3 linked regions of the Homo sapiens genome follow. The protein of the gene in region 3 binds, or shares a complex with, the protein of the main gene of each other region. Each region holds a gene or a part of one and is shown on either strand. Other genes may lie near its edges. The genes, in order: EIF3J, EIF3F and EIF3D.

Region 1 (3,751 bases), on a different chromosome or scaffold from region 3:
TGACTTTTTTTTGTGAGACGGAGTTTCATTCTTGTTGCCCAGGCTGGAGTGCAATGGCGCGATCTCGGCTCACCACAGCCTCTGTCTCCTGGGTTCAAGCAATTTTCCTGCCTCAGCCTCCCGAGTAGCTGGGATTACAGGCATGTGCCACCACACCCAGCTAATTTTGTATTTTTAGTAGAGACGGGGTTTCTCCATGTTGGTCAGGCTGGTCTTGCATTCCCGACCTCAGGTGATCTGCCTGCCTTGGCCTCCCAAAGTGTTGGGATTACAGGCGTAAGCCGGCCTTGATTCTTTTTTTTTTTTTTTTTTTTTTTTGAGACGAAGTCTCGCCGCACTGTCACCTGGGCTGGAGTGCAGTGGCACAATCTTGGCTCACTGCAACCTCCCACTCCTGGGTTCAAGTGATTCTCCTGCCTCAGCCCCCAAGTAGTTGGGATTATAGGTGTCTGCCACCACGCCCAGCTAATTTTTTGTATTTTTAGTAGAGACAGGGTTTCACTATGTTGGCCAGGCTGGTCTCAAACTCCTGACCTCGTGATCCGCCCACCTCAGCCTCCCAAAGTGCTGGGATTACAGGCATGAGCCACGCACCCGGCCTGACTCCTTTTTAATAGTGGGCTTTAGAATTATATAGACTTAATTCATTAACCAGGCTTATGTTGTATGGAATACTACTTGAAATAAATGAGCTATTGGCCAGAGTATAGGATGCTTTTTACATTTGGGGGGAAGTAAGAACTATAAAGTTCTCTCAGTTTTTATTTATTAATAACTGAATCACTTTCAGAGAGGCTATTGATTTCAGCTAGGTTGTCCTAACTGCTAATGGAGAAGCTTTCTTATGAAGTTAGATAAGTTGATATGAGGGTTCATATGGAAAAACAAAACATGCAAGAAAGGCCAAGAAAACACTAAAAAATCTGAAAACCTACAAGGAAGGACTAGCTCTAGCTGACATTAAAGTAAAGCCTCTGTAATTAAAACAGTACCGGCTGGGCATGGTGGCTCACGCCTGCAATCCCAGCACTTTGGGAGGCTGAGGATCACCTGATGTCAGGAGTTCGAGACCAGCCTGGTCAACATGGAGAAACCCCGTCTCTACTAAAAATACAAAAATTAGCCCGGCATGATGGTGGACACCTGTAATCCCAGCTACTCCAGAGGCTGAGGCTGGAGAGTCACTTGAACCCAGGAGGCAGAGGTTGCAGTAAGCTGAGATCGCGCCATTGCACTCCAACCTGGGCGACAAGAGTGAAACTCCGTCTCAAAAAACAAGACCAAAAAAACCCAGTATGGTACCGTTATATGGAGAGACAGTAGACTAGTGGGATAGGATCAAAAGCCCAGAAATAGACCAAGTACATATGAAAATTTAGTATATGGTAAGTCACAAGGTATCTTAAAATGTTTTTTGCTGCAATAGAATGCAATAGACTGGGTATTGTATAAACAACAGATTTATTTCTTATGGTTATGGAGGCTGAGAAGTCCAGTATCAAGGTGCTGGCATCTGGCGAGGGCCTTCTTGCTCTATTATCCTGGGGCAGAAGGGCAAAAGAGCACAAAGGATTGCAGGAGGTGTCAGAACTCATCCTTTTATCAGATATCTACTCCTAATATAAAGGTATTAATAATTCATTCATGAGGGCTTTGCCTCTAATCATTTCTAAAAGACCCTACTTCTCAACACTGTTGGATTGGAGATTTCATCACATGAACTTTGGAGGACACATTCAAACCATAGCCCAGGGAAAAAAACCATTATTTATTAAAGGGTTTTTAATAAATGATGCTGTGACAACTGGGTAGCCATTTGGGAAAAAAATGAAATTAGATCCATGTTGCATATCATAACACAAGAAAAAAACTCCAAATCAGAGATCTAAATAAAAAAAAAAATGAAACCCTATACATTCTAGAAGAAATTGTGGGTGAATTCTTAGGTGTAAGAAAAGACTTTCTGGCTGGGCGAAGTGGCTCATGCCTGTACTCCCAGCACTTCGGGAGGCTGAGGTGGGCGGATCACCTGAGGTTGGGAGTTCGAGATCAGCCTGACCAACATGGACAAACCCCATCTCTACTAAAAATACAAAGTTAGCCAGGCATGGTGGTGCATGTCTAATCCCAGCTGCTTGGGAGGCTGAGGCAGGAGAATTGCTTGAACCCGGGAGGTGGAGGTTGTAGTGAGCCTAGATCATGCCATTGCACTCCAGCTTGGGCAACCAGAGCAAAACTCCAACTCAAAAACAAAACAAAACAAAACAAAACAACAAAAAAACAAGAAAAGACTTTCTAATTGACTTGAAATCCATCCAGAGGCAATGAAAGAAAAGACTGGGGCTAGGCACGGTGGCTCACGCCTGTAATTCCAGCACTTCGGGAAGCCGAGGCGGGCGGATCATGAGATCAGGAGTTCGAGACCAGTGTGACCAACATGGTGAAATCCTGTCTATACTAAAAATACAAAATTAGCCAGGCATGGTGGCATGTGCTGGTAATCCCAGCTACTCGGGAGGCTGAGGCAGGAGAATCACTTGAACCTGGGAGGCAGAGGTTGCAGTGAGCTGAGATCGTCCCTGTATTCCAGCCTGGGCGACAGAACGAGACTCCGTCTCAAAAAAAAAAAAAAAAAAAAAAAAAACCATTTCTACTAAAAATAAATGAGCCAGGCATGGTGGTGTATGCCTGTAATCCTAGTTACTGGGGAGGCTGAGGCAGGAGAATCGCTTGAACCTAGGAGGTGGAGGTTGCAGTGAGCTGAGATCGTGACATTGCACTCCAGCCTGGGCAAGAAACTCCGTCTCAAAAAAAAAAAAAAAGTCTGGTAAATTTTATTGCATAAATTTGTTGGGATGCATAGCAATTCATGGGGAAACAATAGAGGCATTTCCATCAAGAAAGCAAGGATGCCCATTACTTCTGCTGCTGTTCAACATTGCACTAGAGGTTTAGCTGGCCCAATTAGGTAAATCACTTGTGAGGGCCTAAGGATTGGTAGAGAAGTAAAGCTATCTTTTGTTTGCAGATAAGGTAGCATACCTGTAAAACCCTAGAGAAGCAACGATAAATCTAACTTAAGTGATAAATGAATTCAGTAAGGTAGCAGGATATTAACATATAAAAAAGCCAATAGTCATTTTTGTTTATTTGTTTTGAGACAGGGTTTTTATGATAGTGAGTTGCCTAGGATAGAGTGCAGTGGCACTATCATAGCTCACTGCAGCCTTAACCTCCTGGGCTCAAGTGATCTTCCCACCTTAGCCTCTCAAGTAGCTGAGACTACAGGCACATGCCACGTTGCCCAGTTAATTTTTTAATTTTTTTTTTTTTTGCAGAGACTGGGTCTTGCCGATAGGTTTTTATACACAAATAATAGCCACCTAGAGGACATAATAGGAAAACACCCTATTTATAATAGCAACATACAAGATGAAATACTTAGGAATAAATCTAAAGAGAAATGCGCAGAGCCTCTAATAGGGAAATCACTTTAAAACACTTCTGAAAGGTACAAAAATGTACTTGATCAAATGGAAAGACAGTTCTTATTCTTGGTTAGGGCAGCTCAGCATTATAAGATGTCAATTCCCCCTACATTAATTTATAAATTTAATGCAGTACAAAAAAATACCAACAAACATTTCTCTGGAGTTAGTCAAGTTGATAATAAAGTTCACATAGAAAAGCAAACATGCAAGAATTATTAATGGAAGTCCTTTTCTTTAGGATAACTGGGATGACGATGATG
Region 2 (3,751 bases), on a different chromosome or scaffold from region 3:
CAAGTCAGTGATGCAAAAATAATTTATTACAGAAGCTCAGAGCAGGGCACAGTTACAGAACACCATCATGCTGTGGAAGGTTAAGAATGGAGTGAGGGTCCGGGTATGGGATGGAGGACCGGCACTTAATGCTGTTGCTGGGAACGTGGAAGGTAGGTAGAGCTTAAACAAATGAAGGACAGCAGGAAAAGCACTTGTGGCAAAGAGAACGCAAAAGCTTGGTCTGAGAAAAGACAAGCAATGTTCAGAAGATATGAATTTAAGTTTCTGTAAAATGCTATACCGTCAAAGATAGATAAAGGAGAGAAAATGTGTGTCTGTATGCATTGGGGTGGTCCAGGCCTGATGTGAATGGCAACTAACAGCTGTACCTAATGTGTGCCAGCATAGTCAGAAGTTTTTAATTTAGCTCTCACAAAGACTAAGTCTAAAGTAGCTCCTGACAGAACAGATTTTAGGTAATCTGCCCCAAGTCACATGGCAAATGTTTTGTGAGGTCTGCTTACAAATCTTGTCTGCTTTGCAATATACCAACTGTCTTCTATGGTGTAAGAACTAGTAGATGTTCAAGAGTATGAAAGAGAAAGAATGCTTGTAAATAAAGTGGATTCACAAAGCTATTTAAAATCTGGCACTAAGATGGAATGGAAACGAATTTCATGGGACCAGCATAGTCTCCAGAAAGGAATTTATTATCAACAATCCCTCTTTAGTGCTTTTCCATTTTACAAACTACTTTAACATAAAATATCTATTCCCCAAATTTGGAACACAGGCAGAGAATGGGTCATTTTTCGACCTGAAGGTTAAGGGCAGAAATATAAACAGATAATACAACTGTTTGCGTCCAAATGCAAAATGGGGGAACAGGGTTTCTCACATTAGGTACTAATATTAGGGGACACTGAGGGACACAGATCAGGCTCAGACGTTTAGGACAGCAGAACACTATAAAATCCCAAGCGGGTTCCAACCAAACCGGTTTACTTGTTGGGAGGAATGTTTTTTTACAAACGTCCCCACTCCTTTGACAACTGGTTAGAAAACTTTGTCAATACCTGGAAAACGATGACATTTAGTCAGTGGATAAGGGAGAAATATGTGGTCACTGGTATAGGGAGTCAAGGGTTCCTGACTTCCCACTCGGCGTGTGAACTCATTTTTGGTAGATGCAGCCCATCATACTTGCCATAAACTGCTGTTTATGTAAAATGTAAACCACTGGCATAAATGTAAACCACTGGCATAAAATATTCAGTAAATGACACAACTACTCCTTGTGTATTTTATGTCGCTTAAAGTGACAGCAATCCGGCAGGAGAGAGAGGAGAGATGCAAGTGCTTGAGAAGATAAGTCACAGCAAAAGGTAGGATGCAGATATAGATTAAGAGGTCATTGGGGATGGGAGGAAAGGACGGTAGGACACCAGGAATTAAAGAATTAATGAGTTAGGGGAGTGAGATAAATGAGAAGTGGGAGGAAGAAAAGAATGTTAACTTTCTCTGACCACTCACCCAACAGGGTCCCGATAACTCGGGCAGCACCCTCGTTGCGTCTCTCGTAGCTGTCCACAATGGAGGCCAAAATGACTGGGTGCAGCCTGACCACGCGGCCGCCGGGGAAGGGCCCTGGAAGAGCAGGACCAGGCAGAGCGGGCGCTGGGGTCTGCGCTGGAGCTTGCGCTGAGGCCGGGGTCTGGCCAGGAGCCGCAGTTGCAGCCGCTGCTGCCGCAGGGTCTGAGGATGAGGCTGGAGCCGCAGCGGGAACCGGAGCCGCAGCCGGTGCTGGCGTTGGCGCTGGAACTGAGGCTGGGGCCGCCGCCGGGACTGGGGTTGGCGTGGCCGGAGGAGCACTTACTGGTACCGCCGGTGTGGCCATCTTGTCGAGAAAGAAGGAGGCGGAAGCGGAAATGACAGCATTCATGAATATCAGGAGCTTGATAGGCTGAATATACACCACGTGAGCTAGAGCTTTTTGCTGATTGGTTACTGGTGATACTTCTCGGAGCACTGAAATAGTCCCGCCGTTGGTAATTTCTTCTGGAATTTGTGCGCTCTGCTTTTGGCCCGAGGAGCACTCAGGAAACCCTGGGCTAAGTAGTTCCGGGTAAAACTTGGGACGGCGTTCGAAGAGAAACACTTTGTGCAGCTGCCGCCAGGTGGAACCAGAAAGCAGCGCGGAGGTCGAAATTCGTGTTTTAGACTTAAATGAGATAATGGATGTCAAAGTGCCTTTAAAAAGGATTTTAAGGCCAGGCGCGGTGGCTCACGCCTGTAATCTCAGCACTTCGGGAGACCGAGGCGGAAGGATCGTTTGAGCCCAGAAGCTCGAGGCTGCAATGGGCGAGAAGGAGAACTTAGCTGGATTTCTCCTGCTGCTTTGAGAAGAGACTGGAGGGTGAGGGGAGGTGAGGAGAGGGAGGCGAGAGAGGGAAAAGCAGGGAGACCTGCTGGGAGGCCACTAGGTAATCTAAGTGAGAGATGATGGTGGCTGGGACCAGGCTGGTAGCAGTAGAAGTTCTGAGAAGTGGGAAGATTATGGATATATTTTGAAGGTAGTTTCAATAGGGTTTCCTGAGAAATTGTATATGAGGTGTGAAAGAGAGGAGTCAAGGAGGACTGCAATTTTTTTTTTTTTTTTTTGTACTGAGCGATTAGTAGGATGAAGTCACCATCAATTGAGATAGCAAAAGCTGTAGGTAGAGCAGGTTTTGGGGAAAAGATCCTGATTTCATTTCTGAATGTGTCACCTTTGAGATGTCCATTACACATTCAAGTGGAGTTGTAATAAGGTGTATAAACTAGTCTGTACTTTAGGAGAGGATTATATGAGGTATTGCCTTGTAAAGCTCTTAGCACATGCCTGATATACAGTAGTTATTAAGTCATAGCTATTATCACTATGTGATGGAGGGAGCTCTGACCATAACCCACTGTGTAACTTGGGGCAATCTACAAGTTTTTTCTGAGCCTCAATTTCCTTCTTGGTATAATGGGGTGATAACATCTGCTTGTAAAGACAAAACAAAACACCAAAAAAACTGTCAACTCCCTTAATTAGGTCAAGTCCTAGTGTCCAGCTGGCAAGTGGATAGGTGAGGTTGAACTTCTTATCCCTGATTCTGTGCCCAAGAGTTGATTTCTCCTTGGAGAAATCTTCCATTATTAGAATTCACATGACGCTGCTCCCCTGTAAATGCTCTGTGTAGACATGCATTCTTTCTTTCACCAAAACAAAGGTGAACAGCCAAACAGAAGAAGATTGAAAAGTAACTCTTGGATTTGATGACCTGGAGTCTTTAGCAACCCTAGTAGAGCAACGTCAGTGGGACTGAGGGTGGGGTGGGCACAGAAACTAGAAATCTGGTGTGAGAGAATGGCCAGTCTGAACTGAAAGCAGCAAGTGCCAGCTTTTCTTTCAGGAAGTTTTCTGGGAAGGAAAGGAGACATTTAAGGAAATAGCCAGGGAAACAGCAGGATTGAGAGGCAGCCAATTTAGGATGGCAGTGTTTCAAGTATATTTTAAACTGAGGATAAGAATATAGACGAGAGAGAAATATTAAATATACAAGTGTGAAAAAATATCTAATGAAACGGGCAAAAGGTGGACCCACACTGAGAAGCCTAGATGGTCTTGCACAGGCTGAGAGGCATGCTGGAGAGACTGCCCAGGGCCCTGGCCTCCCTTTTGGGTGCTTAGTAGGGGTCTGCCTGAGTCAAGGTCAGTCCATTGAGATCATCTCATGGGAAA
Region 3 (3,751 bases):
AAGGAAAACTGTACCGACACATGCTACCACATGGATGACTCTTGAAAACACGCTAAATAAAAGCTGCCAGTTACTAAAGACCACATATTGTATGATTCCATTTATGTAAAATGTCTAGAACAAAAAATCCCGAGACAGAAAACAGATTCATAGCTGCCTACTGCTGGGCTACTGGGGGTGCTGGTGTTTGGGTGTGCCTCCTGGAATTCATTTGGCAATCTGGTTGCTACTGCGGCAGTGTCGGGAGGTAGGGCCTTTAAGAGATTAGGTCGTTAAAAGGAATAAATGCCTCATGCCCTTCTCTCAGGAATGGGCTAACTACCCAAAGTTTAGCCCTTTTCTCTGTTGCACCCTGCTCCCGCTTCTGCTTTTTCTGCCATGCTATCAAGCAGCATGAGGCCCTCACCAGATGTGGCTCCTGATCTGGGACTTCCCAGTCCCCAGAACCATGAGCTAAAGAAACCGCTTTATAACTTACCCACTCTCAGGTATTCTGTTCTAGCAACGGAAAACAGATCAAGACAGGGTGACTGCTAAAGGGTAAGGGATTCTTTTGAGGGTGATGAAAATGGTCTGAAATTGACCAGTTACAGAACTCTTCAAATATATTAAAAACCACTAAATTGTACGGTATGTGAAGTATATCTCATCTAAGCTATTAATAAAGACAACCAAATAAACAGAACCAAATTCCAAGGCAGAATTCTGGTATAAATACATTACCTGTGATTTCTGATCCCATTTCTGCCTAACCCCAAATTGTTTCTGGAACTTTTTCTGCAGTCGAATGCGTTCTCTGGAAAGACAGACATATGATCTCAGTGCAGACCTTTAAACCAGTGGCTTCTTCAAAAGGCACACGCTGCCATTCTCTTCAGCTAAACCTTACCATCACCACTAACTCCTTTAAACTACGAAAAATGGGCTTAGAGAAAGGAAGAGACCCAGACGGTGCATACTGGAGGTGTTAGAAAAGGTACACTGCCTCCAAATACTGACCAGATGATTTTACTTCATCTATAGTGACTGTTCACTGATAGTTCCAATCTGGGGTGTAGTGGCCGCTGGACCACACAACACCAGGAGGCTCAAAGGACCAGCATACAGGGGGCTTCCTAGAGTTGACCCACAGCAGAACTGAGCCCAGGTAAGCTCCAGAGCCTCTTCTTGCCTGCCTGTGTTTCCCTTTAGTGCGCATGACCAGCACAAGGAGTTAGTTTCCTGCCCATGCTATCTGCCATGAACCAGCCTGAGAACGACAAGCTAAAAGGGGGCTTAACTGGTTGTAGAAAGTATTTTCCTTTTTTGCAGTGGTGGGGAATACAACCATCCTCCTGCTTTGGTCCTGTGGTTTCCAAATACGGCCAGTCTGGGAAGGGTGTCTTGTTCCAGCAGGATGAAAATCTCACCTCTCTTTCTGTTTGGCACTCTTAGGCAGGATCTGCAGGTTGAACTGCAACATGTTCCGACGATCTTTGTCTCTGCGGAGGTTCCTCTGGGCATCAGCAAGAAACATCCATGTTAAAATCTTGGAGATTTGGCTCACAATAGGCAGAACAAGTGGGAGGTCTTTGGAGTAAATTTAGGATGCCAAATCCCAAGTTTCACATCTTACTCTGTGCTTTCACTCTACGGCATCAACAGCTTGGGGGTGTTAGGGGGTAAGTGCTTGGACTTTGCTTAGACCTATACTCCCATGATATATTTTTCATTGAAGTATGTTTACTGGGTCTCATTAGATTTTCTGAGTTTGCCTCTTTAAATAATAATAGGCAATCTGACTGGACCATCTACTTAATAAAGTCTGCACACAGCAATTAAGTGTGGTAACAGGCACAGGTGCACCTTCTTATCCAGCACAAATGTTTTTAGCATACAAGTCTGATGTCCTAGCTACTGGCAAACAGAAATATAAACTATTTAAATGCATCCCTGATCCTAGTGCAAGTTCACCTTGGTACCACTTGTTATGGAACGGTGACCCGAGATTCACGAAAAGACCTATAATATGCTTCCCTCTCTCATTAGGAGTCACAAGGTAGCATTTTTTAGCAGGTGATGGCCAACAGTAACAGCCCCAAGATGGTGTGGTTGCTGGCTCTTGGCCTACCTGGGCAAATCTCATTCGATTCCGCTGGTAGGCCGTCTTCTGTGTGCGCGCTGTATCCACCAGCTGGAAGCTACTTTCATCCTCCTCATGGAAATAAGCATATTGACTTCCACCACCAAACTGAGAGGAGTACTTATCTGGAGGCAAAGGTGATGGCATGTAGTAACTGCACCCACAGACTTTACCAGATATGCACCAGTCTAAAGCCTTGCTATTTCAAGTGTGGTCTTGAGACCTGTAGCATTGGCTGAAAGCTTGTTAGACACACAGACTCACAGTCCCACCCCATACCCACTGAATCAGAACCAGCATTTTAACAAGATCCCCGGATGATTCATATGCACATTCAATTTTGAACAACTCTGGCCTAAAGAACTTTCTAAGCCAAGAATCTGAAGGACTCAAACTAACCCATTTCACTCTCTGCGTTATTGTGTGAGAATCTGAGGTATTTATTGCTAACCACCATCTCCATTATCAGGGGCCCATGGCAGGTATGTCTAATAGATCACGATATACTTTCTTGCCAATCTCAGCCTCAGCTATCCTAACTTAGTTCTCCAGGCAGCCACCTCCAACTATCTGAAGTGGCAGAGAGAAAAAGCCTTTTTATGGTACCAGGATCTTAAAACCAGGGGTTTTACTTTTTTTTTTTTTTTTTTTTTTGGAGACAGGATCTGGCTCTGTCACCAGGCTGGAGTACAATAGCATGATCTCTGCTCACTGCAACCTCTAACTTCTGGGTTCAAGTGATTGTCCTGCCTCAGCCACCCGAGTAGCTGGGATTACAGGTGCACGCCACCACGCCCAGCTAATGTTTTCAACAGGTTTTTAAAAGGGCCCAAAACCCCATTTTAATAGGCTAGACCTCTTTAATGAATGGTCTAAGTTTTGAGGGCTATTTCCAAAAATGTGGTTATTGTTAAAGCCCAGAATACATCCCTAAAAGTTATGAATTATTGTTGGCAGTTTCTTCCCATTCTAAAAAGCTTTCAGAAGAAGGTCATTAGAATAAAGAACAACTTTCCCAAGGCCCTGATTGGGGCATTCAGTTGCAGAAACACTTACTTGTGTACCTCTTATCTTGGTATGTGGCTCCTGTCCAGTCTGCAACCTACGAAGAACAAGAAAAGACAGAGAATGCACAGGTCAACCAGGCAAGTTTCTGCAGAACCAGAAATCCCTGAGCGCGAGAGGACAGCGTGGAAGAGTCTCAGAATTTGTTCACAACACCTCTGTAAGTGCCCAGCTCTTCTATGACTACACCCAGAGATAACCTTTCTCAGCTGGCATCCCTATAAGAAATTCAGGAGTTAAGATTTTGAGACAATAAAATCTAAACAGGGACTCGAGAGTAGCAGCCACAGCTGCAAAGATTCAGACTCCTGCTGACAGGCATGTACCTTTCCTAGCCGATCTCCTTTGCTGAACGGCTGGTAGGGCATATCCCGAAACTGCTCGGGAACCGCACAGGGACCCCAGCCTGAGGGGTTGTCCTGGATCACGGGTGTCATGAACTTTGCCATCTTCCAAAATCTGAAAAATATAAATCATGTGAGTAGCGGCATGAACGAAGGCCTCAGAGTACAAAACACCCTCCATATGAAGTAAGCAAAGACATAAATGATAGAACTCAAAAAG

What was found.
Region 1: EIF3D (region 3) and EIF3J share a complex: the UniProt entries of both Homo sapiens proteins name them as parts of the eukaryotic translation initiation factor 3 (eIF-3) complex.
Region 2: EIF3D (region 3) and EIF3F share a complex: the UniProt entries of both Homo sapiens proteins name them as parts of the eukaryotic translation initiation factor 3 (eIF-3) complex.

The regions. Positions count from the first base shown.
Region 1 is NC_000015.10:44,547,147-44,550,897, forward strand, and holds part of EIF3J (eukaryotic translation initiation factor 3 subunit J), read left to right. Parts: intron 1-3,729; coding exon 3,730-3,751. UniProt on the Homo sapiens protein: Component of the eukaryotic translation initiation factor 3 (eIF-3) complex, which is required for several steps in the initiation of protein synthesis.
Region 2 is NC_000011.10:7,985,481-7,989,231, reverse strand, and holds the start of EIF3F (eukaryotic translation initiation factor 3 subunit F), read right to left. Parts: upstream 1,896-3,751; 5' UTR 1,880-1,895; coding exon 1,516-1,879; intron 1-1,515. UniProt on the Homo sapiens protein: Component of the eukaryotic translation initiation factor 3 (eIF-3) complex, which is required for several steps in the initiation of protein synthesis.
Region 3 is NC_000022.11:36,522,486-36,526,236, forward strand, and holds part of EIF3D (eukaryotic translation initiation factor 3 subunit D), read right to left. Parts: intron 3,647-3,751; 5' UTR 3,637-3,646; coding exon 3,514-3,636; intron 3,225-3,513; coding exon 3,179-3,224; intron 2,248-3,178; coding exon 2,111-2,247; intron 1,496-2,110; coding exon 1,410-1,495; intron 797-1,409; coding exon 724-796; intron 1-723. UniProt on the Homo sapiens protein: mRNA cap-binding component of the eukaryotic translation initiation factor 3 (eIF-3) complex, a complex required for several steps in the initiation of protein synthesis of a specialized repertoire of mRNAs.